4 linked regions of the Homo sapiens genome follow. The protein of the gene in region 1 interacts with the protein of each later gene in a biochemical or structural test. Each region holds a gene or a part of one and is shown on either strand. Other genes may lie near its edges.

Region 1 (4,110 bases):
ATACCCTCCCTTTCACTACTCTGAAGTTCTGTGAGCTGCTCTGGGGTGTCAGGTGGGTTGCGTTGCTGGTTAGGGTAGCATCTAGCATCTAACATCTTCCCAAGGGCCCAGAGATTTTACTCCAGACTTCCTGAAAATTTTTGAGCAGGCAGGACAGAAATCATAGAAAATACATTGATTTATGACACGCATATACTCTGTTGCCTCTCACCTTTTTTTTTTTTCCTCGTGTTTGGAGATTGAAGTATTCGGAATTTACTTCTATTATGAATATACTATGTTTATCATTGGCGGTTCCTGTAATTTGTTCTTTAAATAGACTGAATATTGTTATCCTTTAAATTTTACTTTTGAGATGCCTATGTTTTCATTGAAGGGTTGAGGATTACTTTAGACAATAACATACCCAAATGAACCCTCATTCACTGTCTCACTTTCTTTTGCACCGGATGTTAAATTTTAACTTCATAGTCCTTGAAACAAGGGCTGGCTCTAAGTGTGTGAGTTTTGGCATTTTAATAAAAATGAATCAGAAGTTAAATTTTGGTTCATAAAGCAAGCGGAGAAACTTGCTTCATGCAGCTTACTTCATGTCGAATTAGAAAGTTTATGCAGAAAACGTTGTGAGGTACAGTGTGCTATTACTGTACAATTTATTAGGCAGAACTGTAGGTTTACATTTAGAATCAGTGTTTTACTTTTTGACATCTGTAAACACCTGCTTGCAGGCAAAAGCATGATTAAGTGGAACACCACAATCCTCTGATCACGGTAAACCATAATAACTCCTTTTGGAAGGCCTACCTGCAACCTGGTGATTGCTTAATGTGTATTGCAGTTACATAATAATATGTATTGTGGTCCTGAAGCCTTATTTGTCATTGTCTTGTGAATACTTTAATTAGCATTGTATTTGCATTCTGTTTGCAAGAACTAATGTTATTTGATTTTTTTTTTTTTTTTTGGTCATTTAAGAGATGTCCTGAAACCAAGAATTTAGACACATCTTGTCCTTGGCTAGCAAGCAGTATTTCCAGTTTGTTGCACACTTGGCTTTTATTAACAATGACAGTTATGTATTTTTTAACGGCTGTGAAATTTGTTTTCATTTGGACCTTACTGCTGGCAGCATGGCTATCTTGTTTTTAAGTTTAGCAATGAAGAAAACACAATATCACCTGTGTTTTGCTTATGTGAAATATATATACAGTATTTAGGTTTGGTATTAAACTACAATATTATTTGACTTTCTAAAGAATAGGTATTTTGCCTAGATTCTATGTGGAAGTGGAAATAAAGGGGATATATGTTGTCAGAAAACATTTTAAAACCTCAGGGTTGGGAGTGAAGAGAACTTGTGTAATTATTGCCTGTATTTAGTTGTGACGTGTTTTAATCTGTGATTGATGCTTCTGATACACATTAAATCTTGTGAATATTTTTTAGTAATAGGGAGTTAGTTGCTAATGAAATACTTTGGGCTGATATTTAGGTTTTTGAACATTGCATTTAATTTTTGTCGTCAATTTTATTAGAAGCACTACATTCCACAGTGGTACTATCACTCTTTAAAAAATTTTAAAAATCAATAATGTGTTTGGATACTACATTTATTATTGTGTTTTTAACTAACAAAGAGATGAGCATGTGTGTCTTAATAGTAATGCTGTTAATCAGCCAAGAAAACCTAACTTTATAGGACAGAAGAAATCAATGTAATGAATTAACAGGAGTCTCTGTTTCATGCTTTATCTAATTAGCCAACTCCACCTTCTCTGAATAAGGCCTTGTGCTTTGTTGAAAAACAATCAGAGATTTCTTGTTCATCTTAAGCATTGCAATTTTATTGTGTTGATATATGATATACATTTAGGCCTCCCCACCCCCAGGATATATTGGAAGCCTCAAAACAAATAAACAGCCCTCTTCAAATAAGAAATTAGGACAGTTCAGTAGAATATGTCTTGGCATTATACAGTAAGGATGGTCCAGATGGTACTCACACGAATTTATATACTTTTATACATCTCAAGGTGTATTTTTAAAACTTGAAATCACTCACTCTGAACCTCTTAAGTGATTTTTGGGGTGTGTGTGTGTGTGTGTGTGTGTGTGTGTGTAGTCCGTGAAGTCTTCTGACACCAATCCTTGAGTAACTTTGCTCACAAAATCACTTTATATAGATTCTTCTGTTGAATCCTCTATGATATTATCACCCCTTTTCATATCCATATAGCTTCATCTTTCAAGGTTTAACTTTTTTTTTAAGCCAAAGAAGAGAAAACTTTCCCTCAGCTTTCTTAACCACATGATTTTTTTTCCATTTCTAACATTTATTTCATTTTTTATCTGTAGTCCATACTCTTGTCCAGTAATAGAATTTTTGTCACTTTATTATTAAACTTTTTACTAATGCAAATGAACTTATTTTTGTTTTGCTTCTTGACCTAGGCTAAGATTATTCTATGACTGAAATGTATTATGGCTGATGAAATACACTTGTTGGTTGATTTTGAAATACTGTAAACAATACAATAAGACATTTTTCTGGGTACGAGTTTGTATGAATCCATGTGTTGACTCTTCCTTCTGGAATGCTGGACAGTTTGCTTTTGCTTTCATCCCAGACTCCCTAGTTCCTTCTCAGGCGCTCTCTCTTCTCCTCCCCTCCTTTCTATCTCCCTCTCTATCTGCCTCTTTTGTAGGGTTTTTCTTCCTCTTCTTGCCCCATTGTTGGTTTTATCCAGAGCCAAGGCCTTTCCATTCCTGTATTCTCTTTCTCACTCCCTGGGTTTTATTTTGCACTCTCCTGTGTGCTGGTGACTCCGTATCTACCCCTCTATCTCAGGCTTTATGGTTGATCTCTAGACCTTTTCAGCCAGTTGCCTATTTACCGAACACTTTTGGGGGATATTCCCCAGGCATTGCAAACTCATCAGATTTCACCGCTACCGCTGACTCTCCCTCTTCCTGTGCACCTTCTTTCGCTGAGTAGCACTACCATCTATTTATTGGTCCAAGTCAAAAACTAGGTCAGCATTCTCACTCTTCCGTCTCGTCATTCCTCATATGCAAAGTCTTGTGGAGTCCACATTCCCAATACCCACTACCCCCACCTGAGTTCAGGTCAGCTGCATCTCACTGATGAACCACAGAAACAGATTCCCTACGGAGTTTCCCAATAACTTAGCCTTGTCCCCTTCCGCAGCTCTGTCCCTACTGTAATCAGAATGATCCTCCTGATGGGCAGATGACCTGAGGTCAGGAGTTGTACACCAGCCTGAGCAACATGGTGAAACCCGGTCCCTACTAAAAATACAAAAATTAGCTGGGCGTGGTGGCGCACACCTGTAGTCCCAACTGTTTGGAGGCTGAGGTATGAGAATCCTTGAACCCGGAAGGCAGAGGTTGCAGGTAGCCAAAATCGCGCCACTGTACTCCAGCTGATCGTTACATTACCTCCTATAAGACAATTTTCTGTCTTCCCATTTCCTTTGAAATAAAATTCAGACCTCTGTGAAGTCTGAAAGGACTTTGGTAATTTGGTCCGCGCTTCTGTCTCACTTGTTACTTCTTTTTGTTCTTCCTAGATTGAACTCCTGTCAGGTCCTTTCTTCTACCCTTCCCTCTACTGTCCCCTGTTCCTCCTCCCTCTGCTCCATGGCTGATTTTTACTCATCATACTGGTCTTTTCTTCAATACTGCTTCCTCAGGAAAGCCTTCCCTGACCCGCAAGACTCTTTCAGTTGCCCCTAGTGTATTCTCTCAAAACACCCTGCACTTTCAGGAATACCAGTTACAAGTTTATCTATATCCCCCTTGGATTGCAGTCCCTATAAGAGCAGGGACCATGTTTGTTTCCACAGGGACTGACACATAGTAAGTGTCAGGTGATATTTTTTGAATGAATAAATGAATATGCAGGAAAGGCTTTACATTTTATTCAGTGTTCATTTAGATTCCCGGACATTATACTCTCTTGATTATCTTCCTTCCTCGTTGTCACCTCCTTCTGTCTCTTTGAGGTTTCCTCGACATCCTGATTTGCTAAACCTTTCTACACCTCAAAGCTCAGTTAATCCTCATTTCTTCTCCCAATACTGTTTCATG
Region 2 (3,804 bases), on another chromosome or scaffold:
TAGTACTTTTGCTCTCCAGAACTGTAAGAGGATGTGTGTGTTGTTTAAAGCCACTAAGTTTCTGGGCATCTGTTACAGCAACAACAGGAAGCTCATACCAGCACCAAATGGGGCCCGCCCAGAGCCTTTTGTGGACCTCCTCAGATTGAACCACCAACACTGCTAAGCAGTGATATCATGCCTATTTATTTATTTATTGAGACAAGAGTCTCACTCTGTTGCCAGGCTGGAGTGCAGTGGCGTGATCTCGGCTCACTGTAACCTCTGCCTCCCAGGTTCAAGCGATTCTCCTGCCTCAGCCTCCCAAGAAGCTGGGATTATAGGCATGTGCCACCACGCCCAGCTAATTTTTGTATTTTTAGTAGAGACGAGGTTTCACCATGTTGCCCAGGATGGTCTCGATCTCTTGACCTCATGATCTGCCCACTTCAGCCTCCCAAAGTGCCAGGATTACAGGCCTGAGCCACCGCGTCCAGCCCAATCGAGCCCATTTCTAACGGGGAGACTGAGGCTGAAGCAGAAGTGCCCCACTGCAGGAGCACACAGTCCCCACCTGCTCTGGTTGGGAATGATGCCCCGCTCTTGCTCCCGCAGGTCACGACCCATGCGCACCGCCAGCCAGTGGCCTCCTCGTGCGTGGCTCTGCCCGGGGCCGGGGTGCAGCGTGTCCAGCACGTGGAAGACGTCGCCACGGGTGAAGCCCAGGCCAGACGGTGGACTGGGCTCCAGCTCAAAGTGAGTGCGGATGTAGAAGGAGTCACCCACGCGGGACTGCACCATTTTCCAGAAAACTGGGGAGAGCGGGAGGCCACATGAGCTGCCTGGGCTGCTGCCTGATCTGAGCCCTCCCCACCCGAGAGTGGGCCTGGCTGGAGATTTGGGGCACTCTCCCTGTAGGGGCCAGGGAGAGGGATGGAGGGTGCAGAGATGCAGATTCAACCACATCCCTGCACTCACCACCAGGCCACACAGCCAGGTCCTCCCCCCGCAACACACAGGCACACCCATATCCACGCGCACTCACTGTCCTGCTTCCTCTGCGTCACCAGCTCCATCTCCTCGCCTGGTGGCAGCCCCAGCAGGAACTGCACTGCCTCCTCCCGTGTCAGGTTCTGGAATGGCACGTCATTCACCTGCCAGAAAGCAAGTGCAGCTATAGAAAAAGCTCTGGTACCTCTTGGGCGTGCATGAGATCCTGGACCTTCCTCTGGGCAAAACTCAGCCCCAGCTGCTTCCAGAGCTGCTGCCAAGGGACCCGGCAGTTCCCCGAGGGCTTTCCGACTGGGGTATCACCCTATGGCTGTGTGATGTGTGACACAGACAGCTGGTGGCATTGTAAGGATACAAGAGTTTTGACACAGAAACGGGCACAGGCACTGCACTTGTCCTCAGATAACCAAATCATGGTGGGTTGTCAATATCAAAACATGGGAACAGAGGTCATGGCATGGAGCTCGATGGAAACTGTGTGAAATGCTCAAAAGAACTCAGACGTAGTCACAGTAGTCACAGGGTCGTGACAGGGACAACGATATATGGACACACAGTGGGTCACAGATGCCTACCACCAGGGTCATGACAGGGACAACAATATATGGACACAGCCATCTGCTCTCCGGGTCATGACATGGACAGCAATATACAGACACAGCCACCTGCTCTCAGGGTCATGACATGGACAGCAATATACAGCCACCTGCTCTCCGGGTCATGACATGGACAGCAATATACAGCCACCTGCTCTCAGGGTCACGACATGGACAGCAATATACAGACACAGCCACCTGCTCTCAGGGTCATAACAGGGACAGCAATATACTTGCACAGCTTGTGGGCACAGACACCTACTCTCGGGGTCATGACGTGGATGTCAAGGTTAGAATCCCACAAGCAAAATGAGTAGAAATACAGTAAAAAATACCATGACCCTCAGGCAATTTGGCATCAAGTTTTCACCCAGCCAGTGGGCTTATGACATGGAAAGTGGGGAGCTGTGACTCCATCATGAATCACAACTCACACTGCAAGGTCAAGACACAAGCAAGGTCATGAGAGCAAAGTGGGGGTGAGACTTGGTGAGTGAACTCGCGCAAGGGACAGGGGAGACAGCCTGGGGATGAGATGAGGCAAGGACAGAGATGGGGGGATGATGAGGGGCTGTGGATCCTGGAGGTAGTTATGACACTGTCATGAAGGCAGGACACAGGCAAGGTCACAACACAGACACAGGGGATGGTGGCACAGAAAATGACTATAAGTGGACATGGAGATCATGAGAGAATGATCTGTGACCTGACCACACGATTAGGACATACAAGACGGTCATGACACGGTCAACACAGCCAATGTCAGGAACAAGAGGATTGCGACCCAGACAAGGTCATGACATAGGCAATGAGGCTGTGACCCAAAGTCCTGACATTGATAACAAGGAGATTGTGACATTGATAACAAGAATGTCACATGAACAATGTCATATGACATGAACAACAAGATTGTTGTTCCCAATCTTGAGCACAGTGTCTCAAGCTTATAATCTCAGCACTTTGGGAGGCTGAGGCGGGTGCATCACTTGAGGCCAGGAGTTCAAGACCAGCCTGGCCAACATGGTGAAACCCTGTCTCTACTAAAAACACAAAAATTAGCTGGGCATGGTGGCGGCCACCTGTGATCCCAGCTACTTGGGAGGCTGAGTCAGGATGATCCCTTGAACCCGGGAGGCGGAGGTTGCAGTGAGCCAAGATCACACCCCCGCACTCCAGCCTGGGTGACAGAGCAAGACTCTATCTCAAAAAAAAAAAAAAAAAAAGTTAGCCAGGCGCAGTGGCTCATGCCTGTAATCTCAGCTACTTGGGAAGCCGAGGCAGGTGGATCACCTGAGGTCAGGAGTTTGAGACCAGCCTGGCCAACATGGCGAAACCCTCATCTCTACTAAAAATATAAAAATTAGCCGGGCGTGGTGGTGGACAACTGTAATCCCAGCTACTCAGGAGGTGAGGCAGAAGAATTGCTTGAACCTGGGAGGCAGAGGTTGCGGTGAGCCAAGATCACACCATTGCACTCCAGCCTGGGCAACAAGACCAAAACTCCATCTCAAAAACAACAACAACAAAAAATGAACCCAGATAAGGTCAAGGCACAGAAAAGGAGGTTGTAACTGGACGATGAGGTCATGACCTGGAAGATAAGGTCGTGACATCAGCAAAATCATGACACAGCCAAGGAGACACTGAAATGTTCAAATACCCATCTGGGGTCTCGACAGTCCCCAGGTGGACCCAAGGGGAGGACTGGAACAGACAAGGGCAGGACCTAGCACACTGCACGCCCATGATCAGTGGGGCTGGCCAGCCGCCCCCGGAGCACCTGCAGAATCTGATCTCCCTCCTGGATGCCCTGCCCGTCGGCCGGGCTGCCCGCCTGCACCCCGGACACGAAGATGCCCACGTCATTGCCCCCTGCCAGCCGCAGCCCGATGCTCTTGCCCTTGAGGAAGCGGACCACACGCGTGTCGGGGCTGTACCTGCAAGGGGAGGCAGAGATGGGGTCAGAGCAGAGTGGGCGGACAAAGGGAGGGCTCAGCATTGTCCTTGGGAAAGCCCCCACCCCCTCCAGGCCTCAGTTTCCCCAAAACCCCCACTTAATGGTCCCACTCAACACAATGGATACAAGCAGGCAGGATTGCGCTGATGAGGGAGGCAGCCTGGGATGTAGGAGTTTTGAGCGGGTTTGCTTTCTTCTGGGGTACATACCCACGATCCTCCATGCTCTGACTGCTGGGCACTCTGTAGATGTCATAGCTGC
Region 3 (3,804 bases), on another chromosome or scaffold:
GAACCCGGGAGGTGGAGGTGGCAGTGAGCCAAGATTTCACCACTGCACTCCAGCCTGAGCGACAGAGCAAGACCTCTGTCTAAAAAGAAGAAAAGAAAAGAAAAGATCCAACTGCAGTGAGGAGAATGACTTGAGAGGGACCAAAGGGGATGTGGAAAGCCCTTGGGAGGCCCCTAGAGTCATCCAGCAGAGAGATGGGGGTGGTGATGGGGGCAGCAATAGTAGAGACAGAGAAGTGGATGGGTTTGAGAGAGATTTAGGGCTTGAAAGTAGCCAGGCCTTGGTGATGGACCCGAGGAGGGAGAGGGAATGCCGGGTGCAGGTGGGGCTCCTCGGTTTCTGCCCTGCTGCTCATCAGAACAGGGACTCTGGGGAGAGGGAACCATACTGAGTCTAGGGTGCATTTGGGACATCCTAAAGGAGGTCTCAGACAGGCATTTGGAAATGGAGATGCAAGTTTGAGGGGTAACTAACCACACAGGCCAACAGAAGCTATGAGTTAGACGAGACAATCTGGAGAGAGAGGAGGGAGGACAGCCAAGGGCCTGGGTTGCAGTTGAAGAATGCCCCCACGCCACCCCCTACCGCCAATGAAGTCCTCATCCTCCACCCCCCCACTTGCCTTGTCATCTGTGACTCTGGCTGACCTCCCTCCTCTCCTCCTGAAGGGTGCAGCAGGTGTGGGGCTCCCGGGTCTGTGGTGGTCTCAGCCACTCTACTCCCTCACCCTGGAGGAGTCTGTGTGTTGTTTCTCAGATGCCCCATGTAGGTTCCCACCTCAGCATCCGTCCCTCCACCTAGAATACCCTTCCCTTTCCTCATGCCGTTGGTTTGGCAAACTCCTGCTTATCTTCCAACACCCACTCAGCAGTTCTCCCAAACCCATTTCCTGTCTCCGTGTCTGGGGCAGGGCCTGTGTCCAGGGAACCTTCCTATTCCCACACCCCGCTGGTGGCCTAGCTCAGAGCAGGCTCTTTGCTGCCACAGACTAAATCAGACTGCTCTTCTCTTCCCTTCAGTTCATTCCCAGCACTGACCCTTTCCAGAAGGCCCTGAGAGAAGAAGAGAAACGCCGAAAGAAAGAGGAGAAGCGGAAGGAGATCCGAAAAGGCCCAAGGATCTCCAGATCCCAGTCTGAGTTATAGCCCTGGAGCAGCTCAGGGCTCAGGGGGCCACAAGGAGGCAGGTCGGGAGGAAGAAGAGGTGGAGGTGTGGTTGTGGTGGAGAGCACCAGCTAGCCCCTTCCAGAAGGGGAGGCCACATTTGCCCGGCCCCCTGGAGCTGGGTCTGAGCCCCAGCTGAAGGGACTGAGCCTCAGATGGCTGGATTTTCTCTCAGGGGCCTCCTGCTGAAGGGGCCTTCAGAGGATTTTATGCTGGAAATATGACCCTGTGCAGACTGCTGGGGGAGGCAGGAGGATGCCTGCCTGGACCCTGTTGGTGGCTGAAGACCTCTGGCCAGCTGGCTTCCGCCCTTGGTGGGGAAGCAGCAGAACTAGGTTCTGAGCCACGGGTCAGGGTGCCACCCTGCTGCTGGCCCCACTGTGTCACAGAGCTGCCTGGCACAGGTCCCAGCCCCTCTGCAGAGACACAATAAAAGCCAGCAGACCCTTTGGACCGACCAAGGCTGGTGGGGACACTGTGAGGGGACCAGGGCCCCTCAGGGATGTAGAAACAGCTTGGAGGATGCCTCTGCCCCACCAGGAGGGGCCCCAGGCCCTGGCAGGGCAGAGAAGGAAGGGGCTTGGCTTGGGCCTCCTGGTCCTACGCCATCACTGCCCTTGACAAATGATTGGTGTTGGGAAAGGACCTGGAAGTGCCCTGGGACCTGGGAAACATTTAGCTCAAGAAGACCTTGGAGCAACATGATCCCTGTCCTCAGATGTCTGGGGACAGTCATTGAGCAAGCACAGGGAAGTCAGCTTGTTCTCTCTGGCAGCGCTGGAAGACAGTCAACCTGTGGGTGGGGGGCTGCAGGGGGACAGGCCGCAGCCCTGCAGGAGGCCGTGCTCCGCAATGGCTGCCCTAAGCTGCATGGGTCAGACAGCTTCCCGTCTCGGGAGGCCACAGGGCAGGGAAGCTGCAGAGGGCATGTGGCCCTGGGTAGGGCAGCTGCCCTTCACTCATGCCCCTCCCAAGCAGAGGAGGGAAGGGCTTTAGTGAGAATTCTAGCTCTGCCTCTTTGACCTTGCCAAGTCAGGATCTGCCTCTTAAAGGAGCAGAGAAAACCATCCCAGATCCCCTCGACACCCAGCCCCCTACCACTGACAGAGCACAAGTGAGATCTGAGTGTTAGCCCTTCAGATTTGCTGACTGGCCTTGGCCCACCCCTCCCTGTGCTGCAGCTTCATTGGCAAAATGAATTTGATGGTATCTGTATCCCCTGCCCAGCCCTAACCTGTTTCTCTGAGGCTGGCCTCCCTACGGGGCTGCAGCAGCAAAGGGAAGCCAAGCCTTAGAGAAGCCTCATGGAAGGGCCCAGAACATCCTGCACCCATCAGTTACTCGGAAGTAAGGGGACAAGAAGCAGCTGGAAGAGAGCTGGGTGTGGGGGCTGGGAGGAGTGCTGGAGAAATTTCCCCATCAGAAGGCCCCTCACTGGGCAGTGGAGGCAGGGCAGTGTGGTGGGACTGACTCAACAGACATAGTTTCATCTCCACCCTGCCCTTCTCAGGTTGTGTGACCCCAGCCACATGGACACCCGAGTCTGTGAACTAAAGGGCTGGTCCATGGCATTAACAGTGGAGGGTGTCCAGGTTCTTGATGTCTTGAACAAAGAATTGGGCAAAATGCACAAAGCAAGGAAGGAATGAAGGGTTTTACTGAGAATGAAAGTATACTCCACAGCATGGGAGAGGGCCTGAGCATAGGGACTCAAGGGGCCCGTTACAGAATTTTTGGGAGTAAATACCCACTAGAGGATTCCATTGGTTACTTGAGGTACACCCTATGTAAATGGAAAGGATGAAGTAAATTTACAAATTCATTTACAGCATATACCCTATGGGGAGGATATTCCCTGTTATAGCTGAAGCGTGAATTGGCCTTATGTTCCCTGCCTCCAGACCCTATTTTCCTGCATCAACGGGAAAGGGTCAGATTCACTGGCTCAGCTGTTTAACCTGTCCTGGTGCCAGCAGCTGGAGCTGGGTGTCAGGACCAGCCCGCAAGCTCTTCCCTGCCGGAAGGACCAGGCCAGTCGCTGTCCTTTTCATGCTAGAGAGTGGTTGTGGTTGCTGACTTAGCAGAGAAGGTGCTTGGCTTTCCCCTTAACTGGAGAAAAAACTTTCTAAGAACCAGGCCTGGTTGGCAGCAGACCTAGCTTTCTTGGGGTGGCAGGGAGGCTAAAGCATACCTCAGGACAGTCAGTGGTGGGTCCAGCTTCGGCTGGAGGTTCTTTCTACTGAATAACTTCTACGGGCTCTGTCATTAGCAGGATTTGTATAATTTGAAGCAGAGCTGGGCAACTGCAGAGCAATGGGGAAGCCAGCCCAGTGTGGTGGCAAGACCTGGGCAACTTGGGACCAGCCTGGGCTGTCTCTTGCCAGCTGTTGTTATCAGAACCAGGCTCTTCACACTCAGATCCTTGGGCCCCCCATCTCAGAATGCCCAGTGGTTGAAAGGATGAAACCTGGAATTTAAGTGACTTCTCAGTGATGTGTGCCCTTCTCTGACGGTTCCTTGTTCATCCCATGTATTTACTGACTGCCTGCTATATATGCAGAGCCAAAGAGTGGGGCCTGGTCTTGAACTATCTCCTCATCTGCCCCTTCTGGCACCTCCTTCCTCCTGGGCTCTTTCCTCT
Region 4 (3,804 bases), on another chromosome or scaffold:
CCTATCATTCATTTCTCCAGGCGGCTGAACAATGTTTTCAAGAGACCTGTTTTCTAGTGGATCTCCATAAAAGTCTGGATAATCTAATGAGCTGGAGAGACCAAATTTGTAGCCACATCTATTATGGTTGTCTGTAGTGAAGATTTCCCGGTACACGAACACAGGAATGCACATCACAAAAGCCACCACCCAGATACATCCACAGATAGAGCAGGCCATCCCTACATTGCGATGATTCTGACACCAGATTGGCTTGAATACCACAAGACAGCGATCCAGGCTAATGGCAGTAAGCAGGAAGACACTGGCAAACATGTTGAGGACAATGATGGAGGGGATGAGCTTGCATAGGAACCTGCCGTAGGGCCACTGTCCCTGGAGAGCCAAGTGAGCCAGCGAGAAGGGCAAGGAGAGGCAGCAGAGGAGGTCCGCCAAGGTGAGGTGGAGGAACCAAATTGTGTTCACTGTCCGCTGCATCTTCAGGCCAGCCACCCACAGCACCAGCCCATTGCCTGGCAATCCCAGTAAAAAAGTAAGGCTGAGAATGACCATGGAGAGAATTACTGGGGGCTCATTCCATGGCTGTGAGAGTAGGTCAGTTGAATTGGTCTCAGCAGAGAAAGACGCCATTGCTAAACTTCTGCAAAAAGATGAAAAAAATGTTAAAACAAACAGTATCTTTTTGAAAATGCATACATATTCTTAGGATTCTAATCTTCCCACATAAAGATGTGGGATCATGAAACCAGAAGGTCCTCACGCTGTTTTAGTTTGCCTTCCTTCACCTCACACGGGACCACATAAAAGCATTCTCTGATAGACAATTATATTTATTTATTAATTTATTAATTATTTTTCAGACAGAGTCTTCCTCTGTCGCGCAGGCTGGAGTGCAGTGGATTGATTTCAGCTCACTGTAAGCTCCGCCTCCCGAGTTCAAGCGATTCTCCTGCCTCAGCCTCCAGAGTAGCTGGGATTACAGGCGTGCACCACCACGCCTGGCTAATTTTTGTATTTTTAGTAGAGACGGGGTTTTGCCATGTTGGCCAGGCTGGTCTTGAACTCCTGACCTCGGGTGATCTGCCTGCCTTGGCCTCCCAAAGTGCTGGGATTATAGGCATGAGCCACCATGCCCATCCTATGATAGACAATTTAAAATCTACTGTATTGATTTATGTGTGTATCAAAATCACAGCCTCATCTGGAAGTCCATATTAGTGTAAATTTCTCCTCTTTCTTGTACTTTCAATCTTGGTTTTTCCACTGGCTCCTTTCTTCACCCAGTGTGTTTAAAAATAAACAAATAAGCTAAATAAGTAAACACACAAAAATATCTGGACTGGAGGTCTCCAACCTGAGGTCACGAAAGGGTTTTAGGAAGTTCCATCACCACCTAAAATGATATGCAAAACTTCAACTTTACATATTCTCATTTCTCTGAGGGCAGAAGCTTCATCCACTCTCCCCACCAGATTTTCAGAGGACTCGCCGCCACAGAAAGAGGTACTCTAGACTCAGCGATGTCTTTTAGATACAACTCCATCTCCTTTTGCTTTCAAATTTTCCAAGAGTTGTTGGCCCTCTGCATTGACTTCCTCACTACCTATCATTTCTTTCTTATTTATTTGTGTTTTATGACCGTAACTTGGGAAAAGAGCTTTATTATTACAAAAGCAAAAAATATGCATGAAGAAAATTGGAAAATATAGACAAACAAAAAAGAAAATAAAAATATACTCACTAGTCAGTGATTATTATTTTAGCACCTGAATTTATATCCTCTTGACCTTTTTTTATGTGTGTGTGTGCATTTAGGTATACACATGCGTATCTTTAGACAGCAGGGGCTGTGATGGCTAGAAGCCTTCTAATATGTGGGACAGTGCTTCATTTATTTATTTATTATTATTATTATTATTATTTTTGAGACAGAATCTCCCTCCGTCATTCAGGCTGGAGTGCAGTGATACAATCTCGGCTCACTGCAGCCTCTGCCTCCCGGGTTCAAGCAATTATCGTGCCTCAGCCTCCTGAGTAGCTGGGACTGCAGTTGCCCACCAACGTACCAACTAATTTTTGTATTTTTAGCAGAGACAGGTTTTGCCATGTTGGCCAGGCTACTCTTGAACTGCTAGGCTCGAGTGATCCTCCCTCCTCTCCCTCCCAAAGTGCTGGGATTACAGGTGCGAGCCACCGCGCCTGGCCCTAACAAAAAAATTTTAATTGCCAAACACATGTATCATAACATTTACCATCTTCACCATTTTTAAGTACACAGTTCAGTAGTGTTTACCATATTCACGTTGTACAACCAATTTTCAGAACTTTTTCATCTTACAAAACTGAAAATGTGCTCAGGAAAGAATTCCCCATTTTCTCCTTTTCTCAGCCCCTGGCAATCACCATTGTACTTTCAATTTCTATGAATTCGACTACTTTAGATATCTGATCTAAGTGGAATCACACAGTATTTGTCTTTTTGTGTCTGGTGTATTTCACTTAGCATAATGTCTTCAAGCTTCCTCCGCGTTGTGGCATGGGTCAGAATTTTCTTTCTTTTTAAGGCTGAATAATATTCCATTGTAGGTCTATACTTCATTTTGTTTATCCAGTCATTCCACAGAGGACATCTGGATTGCTTTCACCTTTTGACTATTGTGAATTATGCATCAATGAACATGGGTGTAAATACATATTTTTTATACATTTTTTTCTTTTTTCAGTTAGCAGTCTCCACATTATACAATATGTACCATAAGGAATACCCGACCTTTATCTGTTTTGTTTCTGTTTGTAAAGATGGGGTCTTGCTATGTTGCTCAGGCTGGTCTCCAACTCCTGGGCTCTACTGATTCTTCCTCGGCCTCCCGAAGTGCTGAGATTACAGGCACGAACCACCATGCCCCCCCTTTTATATGATTATTTTTCAACTGTCCCTAAGACATCTTTTATAGCTGGCTTGTCCACGACAATATCTACTTCAGATCGCACTTTCTTCTTAAGTCTCTTAATTTAGCATAATTTCTCTTTTTCAAGGATACTGCTTTGTTTTGGGGCCTACGCCTACTGTTCTGAACACTAACTTCTTCTTTTTTTCTTTTTTCTTGAGATGGAGTTTCGCTCTTGTTGCCCACGCTGGAGTGCAGTGGCGCGATCTTGGCTCACTGCAACCTCCTCCTCCCGGGTTCAAGTGATTCTCCTGCCTCAGCCTCCCAGTAGCTGGGATTACAGGCATGCGCCACCATGCCCGGCTAATTTTTTTTTGTATTTTTAGTAGAGAACGGGGTTTCTCCATGTTGGCCAGGATGATGTTGATCTCCCGACCTCAGGCGATCCGCCCGCCTCGGCCTCCCAAAGTGTTGGGATTACAGGCGTGAGCCACCGCGCCCGGCCCTTTTTTTTTTTTTTTTTTTTTTTTTTGTGATGGAGTCTCGCTCTGTCTCCCAGGCTGGAGTGCAATGGTGCGATCTCGGCTCACTACAGCCTCCGCATCCCGGGTTTAAGCAATTCTTCTGCCTCAGCCTCCCGAGGAGCTGGGATTACAGGCGTGTACCACCACGCCCGGCTAATTTTTGTATTTTTAGTAGAGACGGGGTTTCACCATGTTAGCCAGGATGATCTTGATTTCCTGACCTGGTGATCCGCCCGCCTCGGCCTCCCAAAGTCCCGGGATTACAGATGTGAGCCACCAGGCCCGGCCGGCCACCAACTTCTTAATTCTTTGTAATGTATCTTCTGCTTCCATAATTCTGCTAAAATTACTTCTAAAAACCAAATCCAAACGTTTGTTTCTCAGTCACCTTC

Evidence for each region. The genes of interacting proteins can lie anywhere in the genome.
Region 2: the proteins of ARHGAP21 (region 1) and TJP3 interact in a test that uses a peptide from one of them, tested with the Homo sapiens proteins (one large-scale study listed by IntAct).
Region 3: the proteins of ARHGAP21 (region 1) and CCDC134 interact in a test that uses a peptide from one of them, tested with the Homo sapiens proteins (one large-scale study listed by IntAct).
Region 4: the proteins of ARHGAP21 (region 1) and C3AR1 interact in a test that uses a peptide from one of them, tested with the Homo sapiens proteins (one large-scale study listed by IntAct).

The regions. Positions count from the first base shown.
Region 1 is NC_000010.11:24,717,109-24,721,218, reverse strand, and holds part of ARHGAP21 (rho GTPase-activating protein 21), read left to right. Parts: intron 1-4,110. UniProt on the Homo sapiens protein: Functions as a GTPase-activating protein (GAP) for RHOA and CDC42. Downstream partner of ARF1 which may control Golgi apparatus structure and function. Also required for CTNNA1 recruitment to adherens junctions.
Region 2 is NC_000019.10:3,735,884-3,739,687, reverse strand, and holds part of TJP3 (tight junction protein ZO-3), read right to left. Parts: coding exon 3,753-3,804; intron 3,524-3,752; coding exon 3,367-3,523; intron 1,134-3,366; coding exon 1,025-1,133; intron 792-1,024; coding exon 554-791; intron 1-553. UniProt on the Homo sapiens protein: TJP1, TJP2, and TJP3 are closely related scaffolding proteins that link tight junction (TJ) transmembrane proteins such as claudins, junctional adhesion molecules, and occludin to the actin cytoskeleton.
Region 3 is NC_000022.11:41,824,679-41,828,482, forward strand, and holds part of CCDC134 (coiled-coil domain-containing protein 134 isoform 1 precursor), read left to right. Parts: intron 1-1,019; coding exon 1,020-1,145; 3' UTR 1,146-3,804. UniProt on the Homo sapiens protein: Molecular adapter required to prevent protein hyperglycosylation of HSP90B1: during translation, associates with nascent HSP90B1 and the STT3A catalytic component of the OST-A complex and tethers them to a specialized translocon that forms a microenvironment for HSP90B1 folding.
Region 4 is NC_000012.12:8,059,556-8,063,359, forward strand, and holds part of C3AR1 (C3a anaphylatoxin chemotactic receptor), read right to left. Parts: intron 641-3,804; 5' UTR 631-640; coding exon 1-630.